3 linked regions of the Homo sapiens genome follow. The protein of the gene in region 3 purifies or fractionates together with the protein of the main gene of each other region. This does not show direct contact. Each region holds a gene or a part of one and is shown on either strand. Other genes may lie near its edges. The genes, in order: ACSL4, PDE6D and FBXO10.

Region 1 (7,872 bases), on a different chromosome or scaffold from region 3:
TAATCTCAGCACTTTGGGAGGCCGAGGCAGGTGGATCACCTGAGTTCTGAGTTCAAGACCAGCCTGCCCAACGTGGTGAAACCCCATCTCTACTAAAAATACAAAAGTTAGCTGGGCATGGGGGCGGGCACCTGTAATCCCAGCTACTCAGGAGGCTGAGGCATGAGAATCTCTTGAACCCGGGAGGCAGAGGTTGCAGTGAGCTGAGGTCGTGCCACTGCACTCCAGCCTGGGCAACAGTGCAAGACTCTGTCTCAAAAATAAACAAATAAAATAAAATAAAGGGGCCAAACCAATTTACGCTCCTACTTAGAATATATGAGTGCAAGTTTCTTCATATTCTTGCCAAAATTGAATATTATCAATCTAAAGATCTTACCAACTTGAAAAGAAAAATTAAAAATATTTAATAATCTTTTATATCTATTTCTAAAAGTAATAATTATTCATTCAAACATATTGTTAAAAATGTTTTATTTGAATAACAGTAATTTGGCTTGTATCAGGTGCCATGTAGGGTCCAAGTGAAGCAGACAGTTTTATTACAGAATTTTGGTTTGAAGAGGGATGCTTTGAATAAATATCCAAAGGTTTAATCAGTCCAATAGTCCCAGTGGGGACTATTCACTCAGTTTCAGAGTGAAATAGTCCCATAATTATTTAAGCATAATTATGGGGTTTGTCTATTTCATAGACGGCATTAGCAACAGGAATATTTGTAGGATTGATGGGAATGGAGATTAACTTGGAGGTCAGATAGTGACTTAGTGAATGAAGTGGCTGTAGACCACTTCTCAAGGAATTTGTCCTTAGTTGTAAAGAAAGTTACTGAATAGGAGAATCTGGAGAAAGATTGTTCTGGTTCTAGCTTCCTTTTTCTCATCTGTGAAATGAAGAGGTTGAACTTGGTGATTAATAGCCATCATTTTATACACACTTGCCATAAATCAGGAATTTTATAGGCATGATTTCATTTAATCCTCCCTCAGAAGAGTCTTATGAATGAGGTACCATTATTATCCCCAATTTACAGAAGAGGCTGAGGCTCAGGAAAATGTTATATAACTTGGTCTAGGGTGGTTGGCTTAAGTCCAAACCCATATGGTTTCCATCGTGCTACTCTGCATCTAAGTGGCTTCCCAGCACTAATAGTCGAAGATTTTGAGTAAGGGACATTTTAAAATTTTGTTATTTTACTGGTCTTTTAAGAATAGGACATATTGGAAGCTTTTTGTATGTTAAAGGGAAAGCATAATAAAAAGAGATTTAAGGCAAGTTATGAAATTGATGACCTATCTTTTTTTGTAATATTACTAGGCTAGAATCACTACAGAGAGTGGGCAAAAATATACCAAAGGCAACTTTCTTACAGATTCAATGACAACCACAATAGATTTTTCACATACTCATGGCCTTATGGATAATAAAAATATTTTGTTATTTTTGATTCTTTATGGGAAGGTCACACAAACAATTTCAAGGATAACTGTGGAGGATTTTATTTAGAGGGTGTTGTAGTTATCTTTAAAAAGGACAAATGAGTTTCATGAGAGAAACCGAAATTAAGTTCCATTAAAATCCTGCTGTGATTTTGATGTGGACCACACTGTCTTGACGGATTAATTTGGAAAAACTTGACTCCATGCAATACTGTGTCTTCCTATCTGGGTGCACTAGATGTCTATTTGTTTTGGTGTTTCCATTAATTTAAAAACCTGAAAAATGTGCCAGAATGAAAAGAAATAGTTATTTTGAAAAAACAAATCATTTCTCAAAAATAACATTTAGATGTAGCTACTATGCCTTTGATCATTTTTGAAAGGAGTGGCTTAGGTTATTATTTATGTTCACAGTGAGATGATCATCTACGTAGGTTTCTGATTTCACCGGTTGTTTAACACAAGCCACTAAAGACAATATTTGGCCTGGTTGTTGGGTCTGCAAAAAATAAGGTTTGTTAATGACAAAATCTAACACAACTTGTCAATGCAAATATTATTATGAAGCCCTGCTGCTTGTATTTAGACCACAGGAGAAAATTATTATTATTCTACAAACCCGTGAAGTTTAACACGCAAAGGCTTGTTACACAGTCAATGAAGAACAGTTGTTTTCTGCCCTTCCATAAATAACTAATGCCAAGAGCAGCCTGGCTATCTGTTTCAGCTTCTTGTTACAGAATAATAAAATAGGCAAGGCCTAAATATCAGTGCCTGTTAACAGAGCTGTCCTTTAAATTCTGTTTAGCTTCTAACAGACTAATTCTCATGCTTTTAGTACTTATTACATTGCATTTTGAATCTGTCAATTGCATTGTACATTTTCCTAACTCTTCCATTTCCATACGTTTATCTACTCCATTTCTAATTGGGTTGGTAGTTCTGGGTAGGACTCATTACAGAGGCAGCTTAATGTAGCGGCAAGCACCCTGGTCTAGGAGTCATAAGCAGTGTAGTAGGAAATTCAGGCTCTGTTACTACTTAGTTGTGTGACTGGACAAGACACTTAACCTGCATCTATTTCTTCATCTGTGAAATAGGGATAATAATACCCTATCTTCCTAACTAATAAACAACGTTGCAAATGTTCTCTTTAAAATGTCAGACAGCTGCTTGGGAAATATTTTGCTCCTGGGCAGTAATTTCTGGAAGGTTTCTGATGACAAGAAATTAAGCAAGGTTTGTTTTGACTCCGAAAAAGGAAAGCTGGAAATAGCGTGGTTATACTTGGTTTCCTTTTTGGAGGTATAGTTCTTCTTTCCTCTTCAACTTGGGTGCAGTTAAATGTGGAAGAAGGTGAGATGTGGTAGGTGATGAAGACAGCCAGAACTGTACACACTAATGAATAGCTTAAGTAATAAGAGATCTTGAAAATCCAAGTAGTTTCTTGGTCTGATAAACATATCTATATGTATATCATACACACATTTGTATACCAAAAAACGGATAGTTTCAGGCTATAGTGATTTCTTTCCTTTATATCTTGTAGAGCTGGAGGAACTTCAGTAAGCTGAAGACTCTGTTCAGAGGAAATTACCTAATTGAAAATGTCTGGGCTAAGAGACCGACAATAAAGGAAACTGGCAAAAGTACTCTTTAATTACAAGTTCTTTTTCATCTTCATCCAGCACACTGATTTATGTGCTACACTGGGTTTGTATTATATCTATATTTTAATTCCACAACTAGACACTAACTTTATTGAGAACAGCGATATTCATTTCTTCAATTTCATTTGTGTTAACCCAACTGTAGGTGATAGTGCTCTGTACATCATAGTTACCCAGTGAATTACGTACCTGACATATGATTGCTTATTTCTGGTATTAAAACAAGATTTCATAAAATAAACATGACAATTAAACTCGTTGTTTGAAGTACTGAACTTTGTAGGTCAATCTTGAAAAAGGAAGCTACATGACTGTCTTAGCAATATTTATAGGTATATTATATGTAAGTGGGTGGGTTTCTTGGAAATTGAATTGGTAATATGGCTTTAGAGTAGTAACACAAAAACTATAGCTCTGTGCTCTCAGCTAACCACTTTTAGTGTCACCTGGGCTGCTTATTAAAAATTCAAATTTCTTATCCCTACCCAGATCAGAATCAAAATACCTGGGGGTTGTAGCTCCAGGTACCTACATTTCAACAAGCACCCCAGATAATTGTGATGCACACTGAAGAACTACTCTAGCTTGTAATCTCAGGTGGTAAGGCATTTTATATATACATATATATATACACACACACAAGCACAAATGGTAATTCTATGGGAAAATGGAAATCAGCAAGTGAAGTGAAATGTCAATTACCATCAGGAACAGGAAGCTAGTTCACCATTACGCATCAGGGAACTGGAAGAATTCTTGAGATTTATTTTTTTGGGTGATATATTCTTGGCAGTTTATCAGGCCTCATTTGCAATTATGGTCTGTCCCTTTTGAAGCCCTCAGATAGTTCGCTGGCATTTTAATTTTAATAGCAATTTCTTGCATCTGTTGGAACAGCATTCGTATGACCGGCTTATAAGCAATGATCAGGGCTAGTAAGATGTCACAAAGCTGCGGTGACTTTTCCTTATCAGTTGGGGGTTTTTTTGCCATGATACCATCGTGGAAATGAAAGACAACGTGAAAATCCTGCGTCCTTGTGATATTTCATCAGTGGGAGTGAGCGGGGATCTTAACGCAGTAAGAGGCAAGATAAACGGATGAGAGGCATTAGTTCAGGCTTACAGGAGCAAGATGCTTTTAGTCAAAGTGTTCAAGATAGCTCTCTTAAAGAGGAGCAGTGAAACCCAAAAATGAGTGTCTTTTGAGGGCAGCTGGAAGATGACCCGAGGGGAACTTTTATCCTGGGGTGGAGTCCTGCGAAGCAAGCCGCAGGTGAGGGCGTGGGCCAATTCTGCGCCTCACTGCTGTTAGGCGCAAGGACATCCCGAAACACACTCAACGACACCAGCAGCGAGACTGACAGAAGCGGATCGCCAGCGGGAGCAACAACTTGAGGCGAGCCGTTAGCCGCCTCGCCTTCCTCGCAGCGCCCCTCCCGCGCCCCGGGAAGCCCGTTCGGCTCCGCCTTTTCGACTGACGTCCCGGGCGAGCGGGGGCGGGCGCGTGGGTGGGCCGAGCCGTCTGCAGCCAGCGATTCGGCTGGCTCTGCCACACCACCGCGCGCCCCCGCTCCGCCCGCCCCTCCGGGCGCGTCTTTTCCGGGCTCGCGCTGAGTCCCGCCTCCGCCGGCTGTCCGGGTGCGCGCGCGCCGCTGCGGCTTTTTCTCTGGCCTCCGCCGCGCGCTCCTCCTCGTCCCAGCGCTAGCGGGCACGCGGTTCCTTTTTGCGAGCTTTCCGAGTGCCAGGCGCCGGCCGGCTGCGAAGACGCGGTGGGCCGCCCCTCCGGTGAGTATCCCTGGATGGGGAGGTTGCGGCCCCGGCACCCCTGCCCTGTCGGTACCAGGGCCCCATTTCCAGAGGGGGACTGGCGTACCTCACCTGAGCCGGGAGGAGGTTGGGTGGGCATTCCAGCTCCTGGAGTCGGCTCGCTTTTTTCCTTGAGCCAGGGCTATCTATCCGCTCGCCTCCGCTGGGGCCGGGAAGATTCCCGAGGTCACTGTATCTGCTCCTGTGATGGACTCTGGGGTCCTCGGAACCCCAGCCTGCCTCTTCCTGCCGCTCACCGCATCCCGAGGGCCAGAAGTCATCTTCCTGATCGGGGTACTAGGCTTTGCCACGGCCCTTTCCGGAGGAGACCATGAAGTGCTTGCTAGACCTCCAAACGACCTTTAGGGTGCCCCTAAACCTCAACTCCATTTTGTCCCCTCCCAGTCGCTCTGTAACTGAGGGCTAGGGAGCCTCTCTAGCCCTAGAGGCATCCGCCCTCTCGAATTTGAGGGATGCCGTCGCTTCCGATATCTTCCTTGCTTCCGATATCTTCCTAGCTTCCGTAGGCTTAGGTTTGTTAGAAAACAGCTGGATCCTGGCGAAGCGTGCTTTCCTTCCTTCCCCCACCCCCGTTCTTTCTGTCTACATCCCTGCCTTCAGTGGGTGCTATATATTTAGTATGAGCTTTATTCACTTCCTCTTCCTCTCGTTTGAGTGCCTGAAAGAACTGTGGCTGATGTCTATAGACATAGAAAAATCTAGGAGAATATGATTCATTGTCTAACCCCATCAAGGGGTTACATATTTTAAATAAGACGTCATTTCTCCTCTTCACTCCAGCATCTCCTCCTTCAAAGGCATTTTTCACCCTCTTGAAATTAATACGCTCTATTCGCTCTTTTCACCTAAAAAAAGGTCAATCGTCGCTCTGAGAAACAACAGTGAGATGCAAAATAAGGGTAAAATGGCATTGAAATGAATCCCTTTGAAAAAGTAAGCGGTTTGCTTTATCAGTTAATGGTCTCATCAGCGCTTCAGTTTCCTCTTCTGCAAAAATCAGTCTGTTGAACTAGAGCATATCAAAGGTTCCTTCTAGTGTTTTGATTCTAGGACCTCTAAATTCATGCAGGCTGCATAATGCAAATTTAACCTGATTAAAGCCTTATTTCTCATAGTCGCTTGTCACCTTAGTTTTTCTTTTATTTTGTCTCTAACAAGAAAGACTTTTAAATGTTCTTGATACGTAAGGCAGCAGGTGGAGATTCAATGATGGTACTGCCATTGAGCATATCGGTCAAGATTTTAACAGTGTAAGGCCTCTTCCTTAAATTGTAAAATAGCTCATCTTTTGATTGAAACTGCTAAAGTGTAAGACATGTAAGACTCCTGTTAGAATTAACACTCTCTGCCATTTAGGTGGGGGATGAAACATTAAACTGTTAGTATACTTGTACCTTAGAATAAAGTACCTTATTGTCCTGCTATAAGAAATAATTTGACAACTAAAAATCCATGGAAGGTGTAATACAGCAATTGAAAGCTTGAGTAAATTCAATTTTGTGGGTTTTTTTTTTTTTTTGGAAAACCCCCTATTTAAAAACACAAGTGATTTAGATTAAGATATTTCTTTCAGTATTTTTGGTAGGGGTGAGATGGGTGAAGAAAGAAGAGTCTTGTTCAATTCAGACAAGAGAAATGAATTGGAACTCTGGAGAGGCTCAGGTTCTAGACCCAACTCTAGATATATATTTAACCTTGAACAAGTCACTTCACCTCTCTTAGTTTTTGCATCTGTAAAATAAGTGTCTTTATGGTTGTTGAAATGATCCACAAGTCCCCCAATTTGAATGATATATTCTTATAATGAATATATATGACAAATATATATATACACACGTGTATATATAGGTATACACACACACATATAATGCAATTTGCGTTAAGGCTGTTATAAATCCTGTTATACCAGTTGACTAGAATGTTTTTCTCAAAGGTTTGTGTATAGTGGTTTCAATTTAGGTATACTTAGTTCTTAATCCTGATTAAATAAATAATTATATGTGAAAATCTATAAACTCAGAAGCATTTTACAAATGTTGGGTATTATGTTAATTTCTGCTTGCAAGTGAAATGTGTGTTATACCGCACTATTTTTTAAATGTCCATGGCTTTTAGAAATTTATAAGGGAATGGCTGGGTGTGGTGGCTCACGCCTGTAATCCTAGCACTTTGGGAGGCCGAGGCCGGCGGATCATGAGGTCAGGAGATCGAGACCATCCTGGCTAATACGGTGGAACCCCGTCTCTACTAAAAATACAAAAAATTAGCCAGGCGTGGTGGTGGGTGACTGTAGTCCCAGCTACTTGGGAGGCTGAGGCAGAAGAATGGCGTGAACCCGGAAGGTGGAGCTTGCAGTGAGCCGAGATCGCGCCACCGCACTCACATACTGCCTTACAACTGTAATTGGCTAGGAACTTTAAAATAATATGTGGGCATCTCATTCATTTATTAATTCATTCAACTATCTTCTTCCTTCATCTGTCACGTATGTCAGGCCCTCAGGACATGATGGTTAAGACAAACCCTACTCTATGAGTTTATACTTTGGGCTGATGGAGATGGTTGGGGGGCATGTGGAGAGACAGATGTACATCCAGTTTATTTTTGTTAAAAACAACAACAGTCAAATCAAGGACAAACAAAATTCTGGAGAAGTTAAGTTTCCATAGGGGAGGAAGAGATGATTCTATTAATTGTAGCCTGTAGACTCTTTGACATTACCTTTTTCTCCATCCTTTCAATTGCTGAGCCTTTAGCAAAAATAAAAGCTTTGTTTTTCCACTTCTACCATTGGCTGGTCTTATATACTCTTTCTTTCCCTTTTAACTTTTTATTTTGAGATAGTTGTAGATTCACATATAGTTGTAAGAAATAATACGCTTTATCTAATTTCCCCCAATAATAGCCTCATGCATAAGTATAGTGTAACATCAC
Region 2 (7,105 bases), on a different chromosome or scaffold from region 3:
CAATAACCTCAATTTTTAACAAATTCAATATGGCTTTCATAAAGGAACTGTTGAAAGAGATGATCCAATATTACACAATTATCTGTGGGACTAACTCTTTTTTTTTTGAAATAGAGTCTTGGTCTGCTACCCAGGCTGGAATGCAGTGACATGATCTTGGCTCATTGTAACCTCCACCTCCTGGGTTCAAGCAATTCTCCTATCTCAGCTTCTTGAGTAGCTGGGATTACAGGTGTGTGCCATTACGCCCAGCTAACTCTTTAGAAGGTACTATTACTATAACATTTGAGAGACTAACATCTTTCCCACAGACAATGGGAGGTAGGAAGTTATTGACAGTGTTTTTGGAAAAAGCACAAACAAATTGTTCTTGGAACAGGAACCAAAGCTATTAATATGGTAAGCCATTCTCCAAAAAACTGTAACCAAGTAGTATCCTCGAAAACAGAATTATTAATAGGACTTTGCCAGATTCTGTTAAAGGTGATCTAAACAAAATACAGAGATACCGGAAGTACGGTAGTCAGGAATGGGAGCAAATTAACATAGATTCGGTATATATATTAAATGCCAGTCTCCTTCCATGTCATCACATTTTATCTTCATTACACCTCTGTAAGACAGAATTAATTTCTGTGTTTAGAGATGAAAGACTAAGGCTCAGAGAGATAAAGTATATTAGTGCCCAAGATGACACAGGTAGTCAGGGTGAATCAGGAATTTAAATCTGGTTTAATCTAAAGTTTTATTTTTATTTTTAGTTTTTTATTCTTTCTACTCTATCATACTGTCTTTTTCATATGAAAAAGGTCAGGAACCTGGAAACCTAGATACCCTTGGATACTCTTTTACTCTATTTCTCAACCGAGCTCTCTGCCCACTGAATGGCACCAGGAGTCCCACCTGCCTGGAATGCCTGTTTCTAGACACACTTCATAATTTCCTGAGACCTGCTCACTCACGTTAAGACGCTTGCTGGCATCATCTGGGACTCGGGTGCTGCCTCTATCAAGGACTGCCAGGTATTTGTGGAGTTAGGGATCACAAAGCCAAACTCGAAGAACCATTCTGAAGGAAGAAGGAAAAGCCGGGGTGAGCAGGTGCCCCAGTATAAAGTTTAAGGGCTCTTTGTCTCCCTCTCTAGAGTGAGCCTCTTCCTACCCTGAGAACCACCAAAGGAAGCTATCAGCAACCTCTCAGACCAGGGGCGTAAAAAAGACAGGGAAGCCTGCTCAGGTTGTCCTCTGAACCACACCAAAGGCTTGCTTCTCATGCTTTGAGGTCTAAAGGACTAGGACCAGCGAGCAGGACACAATATAAGCAGCATTTTCTTAGAGGTAGGCTAGATGTGAACTATATATAGATACATAGTTAAATTCACTTGGAATTAGCTTGAAGGGGCTTATGTGCCCTTTACACTGCATGGTGAGAATTCAATGCAGAGTGGCCTTGCCAGTCAAATCTGTATGATACTGTATGTAGAGCACTGTACTAGGCCCTGCTCATAGCAGCTTCCTCCATGATCATATCACAATACAACGTCAGTGCCTAAACCAGGCACCACCATCCACGCTCCCAGTGTCAGAGACCTCAAAGCCCCTTGTAGTGGCTAGCTTTGTTTTGGTTTGTTTCACTGGGGATTCACAGTCTTGCAGAGTGTAGGAATCCTACCACAAACTGAGTTGTAAAAGGAATGTTATCAAAGCACTGCTTTAGTTCACTGGGTATTGTTGCCTTTTGTCCTGGTCGCCCTAAGCCCTGATTTCAGGCATGTAGGCAGCAGAATACCTTCTAGGCATTGCCCTTTGAAGTAAACTTTTTGTTCCAGGCGGAATTTTTCCATTTGTTCTGTCGAAGAAAAATTAAGTTCTCGAGACACTGCCTTGCACTTGAGGATTTTCTTGGGAACACGGGCTGGTAAGAGAAAAACAAATGTTGAAGCCTTTCTAAATGAAAACCACAGGACTATGATGCTTCAAATTTCTGGGAGCTTCTTACAGCTGATTTAGAGAACACTTTCTTACAGCTGATTTAGAGAACACTTTCTTACATTTTGGATAATGCCTTGGTAAGTGCATTACACTTTGTGTGGCTGAAAGCAGAGGTCTCTAATTGGTCACCCGTATCTGAAAGATATTAGATCTTCAAGGAACACCAGGTTTTGTGCATCTAAGGGCCTCATCTAACTACTCTCATCAGGAAGGGGGCTGCATGGGTACCTTCTCTCTACTCTGTTCTGGTGATTTTAACCCCTTCCTTCTTCTTTACTTCAGGGAGATAAAAATGCAAATTTTCTTTTGGAGAAAAAGTTGAGATCTTAGTTTCTATCTTTGGGTATGTTCTAATGGTAAAATATCAGCACAAAATGGGTTTTGGGAAGTGAGAGAAAGAACTGTTAAGAAAGTAACTGGCTGGGCGTGGTGGCTCACACCTGTAATCCCAGCACTTTGGGAGGCTGAGGCGGGCAGATCACTTGATGTCCGGAGTTCGAGACCAGGATGGCCAACATGGTGAAACCCCATCTCTACTCAAAATACAAAAATTAGCCAGATGTGGTGGCGCACGCCTGTAGTCCCAGCTACTCGGGAGGCTGAGGCATGAAAATCGCTGGAACCTGGGAAGCAGAGGTTGCAGTGAGCCAAGATCACACCACTGCATTCCATCCAGCCTGGGTGATAGAGCAAGACTGTGTCTCAAAAAAAAAAAAAAAAAAAAAAAAAGAAAGTAACTGAAACTGTCAACAACACATGGATTAACATGCTGTGTCTTCAGGGGCTCACCCGCCTATTAGGTATGTGTTAACTTAGCTCTCTTATGCTCAGGTGCTAGTCTGGCATTGGTCACAGCCCTGTGTAGATAAAGGGTTGGAAAGTACCTTCATGCTCCACACCAGGGACAGACAGGTCTTCTGTTCCTTGCCAGAGTATCTTCCCTGTCTCAGCATCCCGAAGGTTCATCCAATTTCTGATCAAATATGACTAAGGAAAAATAAGGCACTGAAAGTGACTCCCACTTTGTATTCTAGGTGTCTCATGTTTACTCCCACCAACTCTTGTTTACTTTTTAAAAAGTTTGTCAAACTGCTCATTGCCATGGAAGCACATAAGAATGTGAGGAGAGTCAAAAAGACATCTAAAGGAAGAAGCAGAAACCTAGAGAAGTTACTTTTATCTATGAGAATCCTAAGACTGCACACACCTAGAGACTGCAAGAAAGGGACAGAAAACGAATAGTGCAAAATTTAAAATTTACCAACAGGATCTGACCAACCAAGATAAAATACCTAAAGAAACAAATATCAGATGTACCCCAAGGAAACAACTCATGAAGATCACTCTATAGTGAATGCCACAGTCCATAAACTTCACCCACAAGCACAGAACTCTCAAATTGCTTTGTAGTGGCCCCCTCTGTTTTTTTTTTTTGAAACAGAGTCTCACTCTGTCACACAGGCTGGAATGCAGTGGCACAATCTCGGCTCACTACAACCTTCATCTCCTTGGTTCAAGCAATTCTTGTGCCTCAGCCTCCTGAGTAGCTGGAATTATAGGAGCACGTCACCAAGCCCAGCTTATTTTTGTATTTTTAATAGAGATGGGGTTTCACCATGTTGGCCAGGCTGGTCTCGAACTCCTGACCTCAAGTGATCTGTCTGCCTCAGCCTCTGAGTGCCCTGTTTTTAAATATGAGAAGATAGCCAAGTATCAACAGAAATTTAAGAAAGCATTTATTATGAAAGACAGACCAAAACAAACTAAAAGAAAAAAGTAACTTAGAAGAATAAAGAGGCTTACAGATAAAGACATAAGTTTTAAAAAGGAGCATTAAAAAAGAGAGATAAGACATAACCTTTACAGACACTAAAAATTAATATAATAAAATTCTGTATATTTTAGGTGAATTTCTCTGGTTTGAGGTTACAACTTATGAAGCTGGTTAACTGATGTTCTCTGTCAGAAAATGCCTTCTAACATAAGTATTTATATTTTCTAGTTTCTGTATTGTTTCATACATTAAATGAGTCAATAATACCAATTTAAAAAAGAATATTCAGAGAACAAAAAAGAACTCTAGAAACACATATATTTTGATAGCAGAACCAAACAACTCAACACAAAGACAAAATTGAAGAAAGCTTTCAGAACGAAAAAGGCAAGGATAGAAAACAGGAGAGCAGGCTGAGTGTGGTGGCTCACACCTGTAATTCCAGCACTTTGGGAGGCTGAGGTGGGTGGATTCCTTGAGCTCAGGAGTTTGAGATTAGCCTGGGAAACATGGTGAAACCCCATCTCTACAAAAATACAAAATTAACAAGTCATGGTGGTGCATGCCTGTGGTCCCAGCTACTCTGGAGGCTGAGGTGAGAGGATTGCCTGAGTCCACAAAATCAATGCTGCAGTGAGCCGAGATCATGCGACTGCACTCCAGCCTGGGCGACAGAGGGAGACCCTGTCTCAAAAAAAAAAAAAAAAAAAAAAAGGAGAGTAAAGGCACAAAAACTTATAGTCCAAGAATAGTCCAAGAGTTCTAGTGTCTAACTAATAGAAGTTCTAGAAAGGTAGAACAGAGAGAACAGAGGGGAGGATGGCATCAATAAATTAATTCAAGAAAATTTCGTAGATGGAAAGTGTCTAGGCCAGGAGCGATGGCTCACCTGTAATCCCAGCACTTTGGGAGGCTGAGGCGGGCGGATCACCTGAAGTCGGGAGTTCGAGACCAGCCTGACCAACATGGAGAAACCCCATCTCTACCGAAAACACAAAATTAGCCAGACGTGGTGGTGCCTGCCTGTAATCCCAGCTACTCAGGAGGCTGAGGCAGGAGAATCACTTGAACCCGGGAGATTGCGCCATTGCACTCCAGCCTCAACAAGAGCGAAACCCTGTCTCAAAAAAAAAAAAAAAAAAAAAAAAAGGGTGTAGCAAATGCCCAAGTCACATCATTAGTGCATTTACAGAATATCAAAGATAAAGAAAAGCGAAAAGCTTCCAGAGGTTAAACAAGTCATTATACAAAGGGTCAAATCAGAATAGGAAAAAAAATCAGAATAAATCAAATTCAAAAGGAACCCTGGAGGGTAGGAGACAACTTAGCAGGGCCTTTAAAATTTTCAGGGAAACAATTCCTGAAACAAACTAAAAAATATTTGCTTTCTTAAGAAACTAAGGAAAATATGGCTTCATCAAAATGACAGAGAAAACCAAGAAAGGGGATGACATGGGATATAGCAAGCAAGAAACAGCTGAAGGGAGTCCCCTGAGTGACAGTGAAGGAAGATCCCAAGACAATAGCTCTTTAACAGGTCTGGAGAGTGACTAGTCCAGGGTCCAGGCTAGAGCAGGTCACAAAGCTCAGGAAGAGATTTTCTTTTAAAAAGATAAAATTCATAGAATACCTAGTGTGTTTATATGGAAAGGAGATTTATACAATTAGAGGGAGATTTTGGGGTCAAATTCATGAGAAGCACAGAAAATCTAAGCAAATGACAAAAATCCAAGTACTGACATCAAGAAAAATTAAAGGTAGTACTGGAAGAAAAAAGTAGTCATAGTATAACTCATGGCTTCATTGCAAGTAGTGCTGATATGGTCATAACAATGAAAGCACATGCTAACACCCAATATAATTTACCTGGGAGGATGGGGGAACAAGAGTATGTATATCTGGATAGTCAGGCACGAAATGTTGAGAAACAACAAAACTGTCATTTTCCGTAGTGGAAAGTGGATAAATAATGCTAAAATGGAAACATTACGACATAGCCACATTTTGCTTTTTAGAAATACCAAGATGAATACCAAATAAATAAGCTAAAAAGGATTGAAAATAGTTTTCTCTGGGGAGTAGAAAATAGGGGGACAGGGAGTGGTGCTCTTCATTAGAAACTAGATAGACTGTGTTTTTTGTTTTTTTTTTGAGATGGTTTCGCTCTTGTTGCCCAGGCTGGAGTGCAATGGCATGATCTTGGCTCACTGCAATCTCCACCTCCTGGGTTCAAGCAATTCTCCTGCCTCAGCCTCCTGAGTAGCTGGGATTACAGGCATGCACCACCATGCCCGGCTAATTTTTGTATTTTTAACTGGAGATGGGGTTTCTCCATGTTGTTCAGGCTGGTCTCAAACTCCCGACCTCAGGTGATCCGCTTGCCTTGGCCTCCCAAAGTGCTGCGATTACAGGTGTGAGCCACCTTGCCCGGCTGACTATGATTCTTTAAATGATGAACACATACAACTTAATAAAAATAAAGACTAACTTTAAGAAGAGAGTGCTAAGGTTTTTTTTGTTTTGTTTTAAAAAACAATTGACAAACCATTAAAGGAAAAGAAAATTAACATTATGCAAGCACAGAGGCTGTCTGCAAAAGATCGTTAATATTTGCGAAGAGACTGAGCTGCAGATAAATATATGTATAATATAGATATAGTTTACATGTGTCTTTTTTTTGGTTTTCTTTTTTTGCTATCTTGTGATCAGACTCTCTTCCCAAAGAAGAGAGTCTCTACCTTGTGGAAGGCAGTGACTGCTTTGCACTACAGCAGCTAGAAAGGCCAGATCCTTTTCTCCCAGCCCTGGCATAATCAGGGGTGAGCACAAGAAGGCCTAGCCTTGGACACGTGCTACCCAGTTCTGGGGTCCTGAAGCTACAGGACTTTCGAGGGAGTTGGAAGTTCTTCAGGGTGGGGGCAGCAGGGGCATGCCAACCTGCCCTTTCCTACTGTGTGGTCTTTGCTACAGACCCTGTCCTTCAACTTCCAGGCAGCTCCAAAAGCCTCAGATACCCTTTCCCATTGTTTGAATAGCTTGCAGTGAAGAACCCTAAACAACACAGCTGACTGGAATCATCATGTGTGTAATAACACTATATTTTACCCTCTGGAGAGATTCTGTCTAGGTTTTGCTGCTATACGAGAAAAGTCTCGGCTGGGCGTCGTGGCTCACGCCTGTAATTGCAGCACTTTTGGAGGCCGAGGCGGGCGGATCACGAGGTCAAGAGATCAAGACCATCTTGGCCAACATGGTGAAACCCCGTTTCTACTAAAAATACAAGAATTAGCTGGGCGTGGTGGTGTGCGCCTGTAGTCCCAGCTAATCAGGAGGCTGAGGC
Region 3 (7,105 bases):
AAGAACTTATCCATATAACCAAAAACCACCTGTACCCCAAAAACTGTTGAACTAAAAATAAAAATAGAGCCCTTGGGATCGTAATTCCATAAGGGCAGGAACAAGATCTGTTTGGCTCCACAGTGAAACGGAGCTCTGCATAGAAAGGTGCTCAGAGCTCAGTCCGGTGGGGAGACAAATAGGTGAAGGAAGAGATACCAAGCCCTGTGGGGAGTGCTCTGTGAGGACCAAGCCCTGTGGGGAGTGCTCTGTGAGGTATGTGTGGACAAAAGCACTAGACAAGAGATAACTCAAACAGCCTGGGGTGGGAGGTGGGAGCTCAGGGACTCTTCCTGAACAAAGATACAGCTAAGCTGCAGGACTGCAGTGCAAGGCGGGCAGGAGGTATGCAGGGTATATAGGGAAGAGTGTATGCAAAGGCCCCAAGGCAGGATCTCTCTCTTCATGAAGCATCTACTGTACAGCAGGCACTGTGCATGATTATTCTGTTAAGGAAAGAGAGCTGAAATAGTCCTGACCTTGACCCGGAGACCATGAAGATAACTCGGGAGGCTCCCAACACCATGACAAGGAGGGGACACCCCATCCCTGGCTTCCTGCTGGTGAGCCCTTGTTCATCCTTCAGGACTCAGCTTCTCCGTCCCCCCCTGTGGGAAGTCCCACCCACATTTCCCAGGCTGAGTCCTGGCAGGAGGGATACTGTCCCTTGTAGTGCTGAGTGATTACGGTTCTGTTCTCAGCAGAGGCCACGAGGACTATCCCAGGGTTGTGCCCTGTGTGGGCACCACACGTCACACACATGCAGACATACTCACTTTAGTGTCGGACCTGGGCAGCAGCTGCAGCCCGCTGCCCCGGTTGCCAATGATATCGTTTTCAATGACGATGGTGCTGTCGCCCTTGGTGATAATGCCGTGGCCTCTGTTGTCATAGATACCATTGCCCCGGAGCTCCACTTTGCACTGGGCCTCAACCTTGACCCCACTTTGCCGGTTGCAGGAGATGCTGTTGTTGGCCACTCGGGTGGGTTGGCTGCTCTGGGCCACAGTAATGCCTCTGTCCCCATTCGCGTGGATCACATTGGTGATGACATGCAGTGCCTCGCTGCTCTGGACATAGAGTCCTGAGGCTATGGGTGGAAGGGTTGGAAAGCACAGGGGGTCCCAGGGTCAGCCCTGACACCACCAGTCAGGAAAAGCCTTCCCTGAATTGTGCACTCCGGGAGAACGGAGTGGAGAAGAAGAGGTACCAACACTCAGAAACAACCCTTGAGTTTGCGTCTTCCAAGCTGATGAAACAGCAGGAGGAAATCCAGGTGCGTCAACAAAACTCTGGTTCTTCTGCATGAAGTCCTTATTCAGTGTAGCCAGGGAAACACCATGTGAGAAGGCTCCTCTGGCCTGAGCTCCCACCGTGTGCTTGAATGCCTCCTGCACCACCGCCATCCTACTGCCGCTTACACCTCCCTGACGGGGTGCTCACTGCCGCCTCAAGGCTGCTCACTCCCCCTCTGGACAGGCAGATCTACTCATTAGAGGGTTTTGCTTTGCTCTCCTTCCTACACTAACCTGGAATCTGCCTCCCTACTGTTTGGGGAAATTTTCTTTTTTTTTTTTTTGAGACGGAGTCTCGCTCTGTCGCCCAGGTTGGAGTGCGGTGGCGCCATCTCGGCTCACTACAAGCTCCGCCTCCCGGGTTCACACCATTCTTCTGCCTCAGCCTCCTGAGTGGCTGGGACTACAGGCACCCGCCACCACGCCCGGCTAATTTTTTGTATTTTTAGTAGAGACATGGTTTCACCGTGTTAGCCAGGATGGTCTCGATCTCCTGACCTCGTGATCCACCTGCCTCGGCCTCCCAAAGTGCTGGGATTACAGGCGTGAGCCACCATGCCTGGCCGGAAATTTTCTTCTTAATGTAAGTTCTGTAATTTTGGAGTACAAAAACTTACTAAGCGAGTAATATGTGTCAAAAATGTGTTTGAAATTTGGGAAAGGAAAACTGACGCTTGCGGTTGTGTGTACTTAGAGACACTAGGTACATGAGGAGAAAAACCCCAAGTCAGCAGGATTAGAGCTCCATGGCTTGTCAGGAAAAGAAAGCAGGGCAGCCAGACCCGGGGGCGAGGAGAGGAGGGCTCTGCGGTAGGTCCCTCTGCCCACCAACAGCAACAAGGGTTGGGGCAGTGCTGGGGGAGGTTGTGTGCAGGACAATGACTGGGGCCCTGCAGCAGTGTCTGGAGCCATGAGCCTGCAAGCTCAAATCTCTTGGTGGCACCAGCCTGTTGCTTCTCCTGGCTTGGTTGAGAACAACAAAAATAAGTATTTGTGAACGTAGGTGGCTTTGCCTGTCGTACCGGACAGACAGCATGGCCACATGGAGGAACCTCTGACCTGGGAGGAGACAGAACTCATTTTCTGAATAAGTGGGTTGGGGCTGCTGGTTATCCATCTCCCTGTCCTCTACCACTACCAGAAGCAAGTGCTTACCAGGCCCAGGAATCTCTTTTAATTTTATTTTGTTTTAGAGACAGGGTCTTGCTCTATTGCCCAGGCAGTAGTGCAGTGGCACCATCATAGCTCACTGCAACCTCGAACTCTGAGTCCTGAGCTCAAGCATCCTCCTACTTCAGCCTCCCTAGTAGTTGGAACTACAGGCATGTACCACCATGCCCAGCTAATCTGAAAAAAATTTTTTTTTTCTCAGTAGAGATTGAGGTCTCTCTATGTTGCCTAGTCTGGTCTTGAACTCCTAAACTCAAGCGATCCTCCTGCCTTGGCCTCTCAAAGTGTTAGGGTTACAGGTGTGAGCCACTGCGCCTGGCCCAGGAATCTGTTCTGAATAAGCCTTCCTCCATTTCCCGACCCACCCATCCATCCTACCCTCCCACCCCCACCCCACAGTGATTTTGATAATCAGGAGGCTTTGGGAGCCCTGGAGTTAGGTGAACTACACAGTAATTATTTTTTTTTAATTCAAGAAATATCAAACATCTTCTACCATCTTTTTTTTTTTTTTTTTTTTCCTTTTAAGACAGGGTCTTGCTCCTGTCACTCCTGAGCTCTGAGCACCTAGAATACCGTGGTGCAATCACACCTCACTGCAGCCTTGAACTCCTGGGCTCAAGCGATCCCCCCGCCTCCTGAGTAGCTGGGACCACAGGCACATGCCACCAGATCCAACTAATTTTTCTTTCTCTACTCCTTCTTCTTCTTTTTTTTTTTTTTTTTTTTTTGTAGAAACCAAGTCTTGTTATGTTGCCCAGGCGGGTCTTGAACACCTGGCCTCAAGCAATCCCCCAGTCTTGGCCTCCCAAAGTCCTGGGATTACAGGCTTGATCCCTGGCACCTGGCCTCCATTTTTCATCAGGTTTAGGATAACATGGATTTAAAACACTTTTATTTTCTGCCTCTCTAAGAAGGAAAACTCACTGCCAATTAAACCATGATATGCATCTCGTGGGAGATGTTGAATTTTGAGAAATGTATCCTAGAGTTGATTAAAAGCATGTGTGCCAGAGGTGGGATTTGGTACTGCAGGGACAGGGGCACTGAGCTGGGTGGGCTTCAGTTCTTTGTCTCAAGTTCATGGCCTATCAGTGTTGATGAAACAGCCACAGAAATAAATACAGTCGCGAGGCCTCATAACAAGTGCCAGTGGGGATGGGGAGGGCCCAGTTCAAAGGAGGAAGGAATGAAGGGGGATATTCACAACAGGTTTTGAAGTTCAAGTTAGTTTGGGACGTGTGGATGGGAGAAAGGCATGAGTGAGGTCAGCAGGTTAGGAGGCAGGAAAGAATGGATTCAAGTTTAATGAATAAATACAGGAGGATTGGGGATCAGGCTGGAAGAAGTGGCTGATGAGGCCTGAGGGCAAGTTGGGATCAGTCTGCAGAAGGCCCTGCCTGGCGGCCGCACCGTCTCAAAAATAAGAAGCACCTCTGCTCGGCCGCCCCACCGTCTGGGAAGTGAGGAGCACCTCTCCCTGGCCCCCACGCTGTCTGGGAAGTGAGGAGCGCCTCTCCCTGGCCCCCACACTGTCTGGGAAGTGAGGAGCGCCTCTGCCTGGCCGCTGTGCAACCCTCCAAGTGTGAAGTGGCAACCTTGTGTGTGATTTTTCTGCCCTACCCAGGTTTGCATCTTTGACATTAAAGTTTACTTTTAAATTTAAATTAAATTAAAAGTTTTAAATTGGAGAAAAAAAAAGACAGTGGGGAGCCATGGAAGGTTCTTGAGCAGGGGCTGAGGGGGTATACTCACCTCCATTGTGATTAATACTGTTAGACTCAACAAGAGCTATGGTGATGGGCCGGCGCAGTGGGTCGTCCTCCTTCTCCAGCTCTGTCTCCCAGAGGATGGCGTCCCCATCCTCGCTGAAGTTCTCTTGAGCCCTGTGGCCTCGAGGTAACTCGCTGGAGCCATCCTTCTGGCTAAATACTGCCACTCCATACAGGCCATTGTAGCTGACGTGGTTGCTGGTGACATGGGGGAGGCTGGACGACATCATCCACACACCACAGCCCTTGTTAGCTGGGACAGTGAGAGGAGCTGGTCACCGACACTGAACTCAGGTGAAGCGGCACCTGAGTCTCCCTGAGAGGGGAAACAAAAGCCACTGGCCTGGGAGAGAGTCCCTGCCTTGCTAATGACCTCGGACAAGCCACCTGATGGCTCTAGCTGCAGACTTCACCTTCACACAAGAGAGGTCATCAGGATCAGGTGAACCTCACAAGCTCGGCTCGTTCCACACAGTGTGAAAGTGCTCTGAGGACTGTCAGGCCACATGTCCACATCAGAAGCACATGAGCCCACAGTGACAGTGCCAAGGGGGCACCAATCCCTCCCTGCATAGGAGGCAGCCTCAGTTGGAATCCCAGCCCTACCACTTCCCAGCTGTGAGACCCTGAGCAGGTTACCAGACCTCTCTCTGTCCCTCAGTTTTCTCATCTTTTAAATGGGGTTAATAACCGTGCCTCCTTCAGAAGGCAGTCATGAGGATTAAATGTGATCATGCATAGAAAGGGCTGAGTAGAGAGGTGGGCCTGAGTCATCTTTATTATTATCACTGTATTATTAGAGATAGAGTCCAGACAGATGAAGGCTCTGCCCAAAGTCACTGCGTGAGTGAGAAGAGTTTTCTTCCTGTGATTATCTTGTTTTCCCATTATATTTTCCGTTCTCTGGGATCAAAAGAAAGGATAAGAGGAGTTAGATGCACATGAGCCAGGGCTGAAATGGTCCTGTCCTTAAGACATGACACAACTCCTGTCTTTTGCTATTTTAAAAGGGGATAAAGCCTTCTGCTTTGCTAACCCCACGGGGTCAATCTGGACTACAATGTGATTTGTAAGAGGCTCTTTGTTCTGGGAGGGCCTGGGTGACTGTGGCCTGAGAGTGCCTGTTCAGATGAGGTCTTTGAGGCACAGGGAAAGGCAGTGACCTTCTCAGGACCCACAAGCTGGAGATGGAACCTGGGCTTCCTGCCTCCCCGGCTGGGTTGGGAACAAGCTCCTCACCGTAGATGGTATTTCCTTCTATGAGGCCTTTGCCTTCGTCTCCCACAACCACACCATCTGAATAGCCAAAGCAGATGAGGTTACTCCTGAGAACGGGGATCCCTCCACGGCGGATGTCCACACCTCCCCACTGATTCTCACGGATGACATTTTCTATGGAGAGAAGCAGAAAAGAAGGTCAGTACCCAAGGGCCAGCTCCAGTGCTGGCAAATAGGACTTGGACAGTTTTGATCAAGGCTACTCCAGACCAGAAGGCCCTGGCCTTACCCTGCCAGCAATTAGCACTGTAAATCTTGTCTGCTGTCTGATGTTTCAGGGACTTATCTGCTGACTCCTTTCCCCAAGGGCAAGGCTTGTGTCTATCTTGTGCACTCCTATCTCCCCGGCACCTACTATACACCCAATGGCCTTGAGGACTGATGATTAAAAATGAACTAGTTTTGGCCAGGCATGGTGGCTCATGCCTGTAATCCCAGTACTTTAGGAGGCCAAGGCGGGTAGATCACTTGAGCCCAGGAGTTCCAGACCATCCTGGGCAAAATGGGGAAATCCTGTCTCTAAAAAAAAATACAAAAAAAATTAGCCAGGTGTGGTGGTGCGTGCCTGTAGTCCCAGCTTCTTGGGAGGCTGGGTGGGAGGATCACTTGAACCCTGGAGGTCAGGGCTGCAGTGGGCTATAATCGAGCCACTGCACTCTGGCCTGGATGACAGACTGAGACCCTGCCTCAAAAAAAAGAATAAACTAGCTTTGGTGAGTGACACTGGTGTCCAAAAAACCAACCAACCAAACAAAAAGGAAACAAAACAAAGAATAGGCCGGGTGCGGTGGCTCACGCCTGTAACCCCAGCACTTTGGGAGGCTGAGACGGGCGGATCACCTGAGGTCGGGAGTTCGAGACCAGCCTGACCAACATGGAGAAACCCCGTCTCTACTAAAAATACAAAATTGGGCGTGGTGGCACATGCCTGTAATCCCAGCTACTCGGGAGGCTGAGGCAGAAGAATCACTTGAACCTGGGAGGCGGAGGTTGCAGTGAGCCGAGATCGCGCCATTGCACTCCAGCCTGGGCAACAAGAGTGAGTGAAATTCCGTCTCAAAAAAAATAAATAAATAAACTGGCTTTAGAGTCCTCAGAGGCAGAATGTGGCCATTTACCCACAAGCCTGTGAGAAGGCGCTAGCCTCACCTGCAATGGCTCAGGAGTCTCTGTGTGACTGGCCTCTTCCTGTCTCCATGTCCCCACTGCAGGCCCCTTGTGCACCACACTCCAGTCCCACAAGCGATGTCCACTCGGCCATGCCAAGTCTGTTCTCACAGGCGGCCCTACACGGAAGGTTCTTTCCCAGCTCCTCCAGCCACTCCCACTCAGGGTCTGGTTTCCTTGTCACCTTCTCAGAGGGCTGCCCTGACCACACAATCCCAAATGCCTACCCAGTCCCTCTTTTGCCTTAATTATCCATAGAGCACTTGTCACCCTCAGATGGGATGTTTTTTGCTCATATACGTAGGCTTTTATTTATTTATTCGCTTCCTCTCCTAAAATGTCAGTGGCTGACAGCCTCGTTCACTGCTGCACTTGTAGCTCCTG

Evidence for each region.
Region 1: the proteins of FBXO10 (region 3) and ACSL4 purify together in Homo sapiens (affinity purification with western blotting; 3 studies listed by BioGRID, with this or other methods). This does not show direct contact.
Region 2: the proteins of FBXO10 (region 3) and PDE6D purify together in Homo sapiens (affinity purification with mass spectrometry; 3 studies listed by BioGRID and IntAct, with this or other methods). This does not show direct contact.

What each region holds. Positions count from the first base shown.
Region 1 is NC_000023.11:109,730,163-109,738,034, reverse strand, and holds the start of ACSL4 (long-chain-fatty-acid--CoA ligase 4), read left to right. Parts: upstream 1-4,777; 5' UTR 4,778-4,896; exon of another isoform or gene 4,897-5,524; intron 5,525-7,872. UniProt on the Homo sapiens protein: Catalyzes the conversion of long-chain fatty acids to their active form acyl-CoA for both synthesis of cellular lipids, and degradation via beta-oxidation. Preferentially activates arachidonate and eicosapentaenoate as substrates.
Region 2 is NC_000002.12:231,736,225-231,743,329, forward strand, and holds part of PDE6D (retinal rod rhodopsin-sensitive cGMP 3',5'-cyclic phosphodiesterase subunit delta), read right to left. Parts: intron 4,883-7,105; exon of another isoform or gene 4,733-4,882; coding exon of another isoform or gene 4,655-4,732; intron 2,979-4,654; coding exon of another isoform or gene 2,965-2,978; coding exon 2,876-2,964; intron 1,915-2,875; coding exon 1,789-1,914; intron 1,069-1,788; coding exon 963-1,068; intron 1-962. UniProt on the Homo sapiens protein: Promotes the release of prenylated target proteins from cellular membranes. Modulates the activity of prenylated or palmitoylated Ras family members by regulating their subcellular location.
Region 3 is NC_000009.12:37,517,310-37,524,414, forward strand, and holds part of FBXO10 (F-box only protein 10), read right to left. Parts: intron 5,669-7,105; coding exon 5,516-5,668; intron 5,180-5,515; coding exon of another isoform or gene 5,148-5,179; exon of another isoform or gene 5,037-5,147; intron 4,530-5,036; coding exon 4,260-4,529; intron 1,130-4,259; coding exon 816-1,129; intron 1-815. UniProt on the Homo sapiens protein: Substrate-recognition component of the SCF (SKP1-CUL1-F-box protein)-type E3 ubiquitin ligase complex. Mediates the ubiquitination and degradation of BCL2, an antiapoptotic protein, thereby playing a role in apoptosis by controlling the stability of BCL2.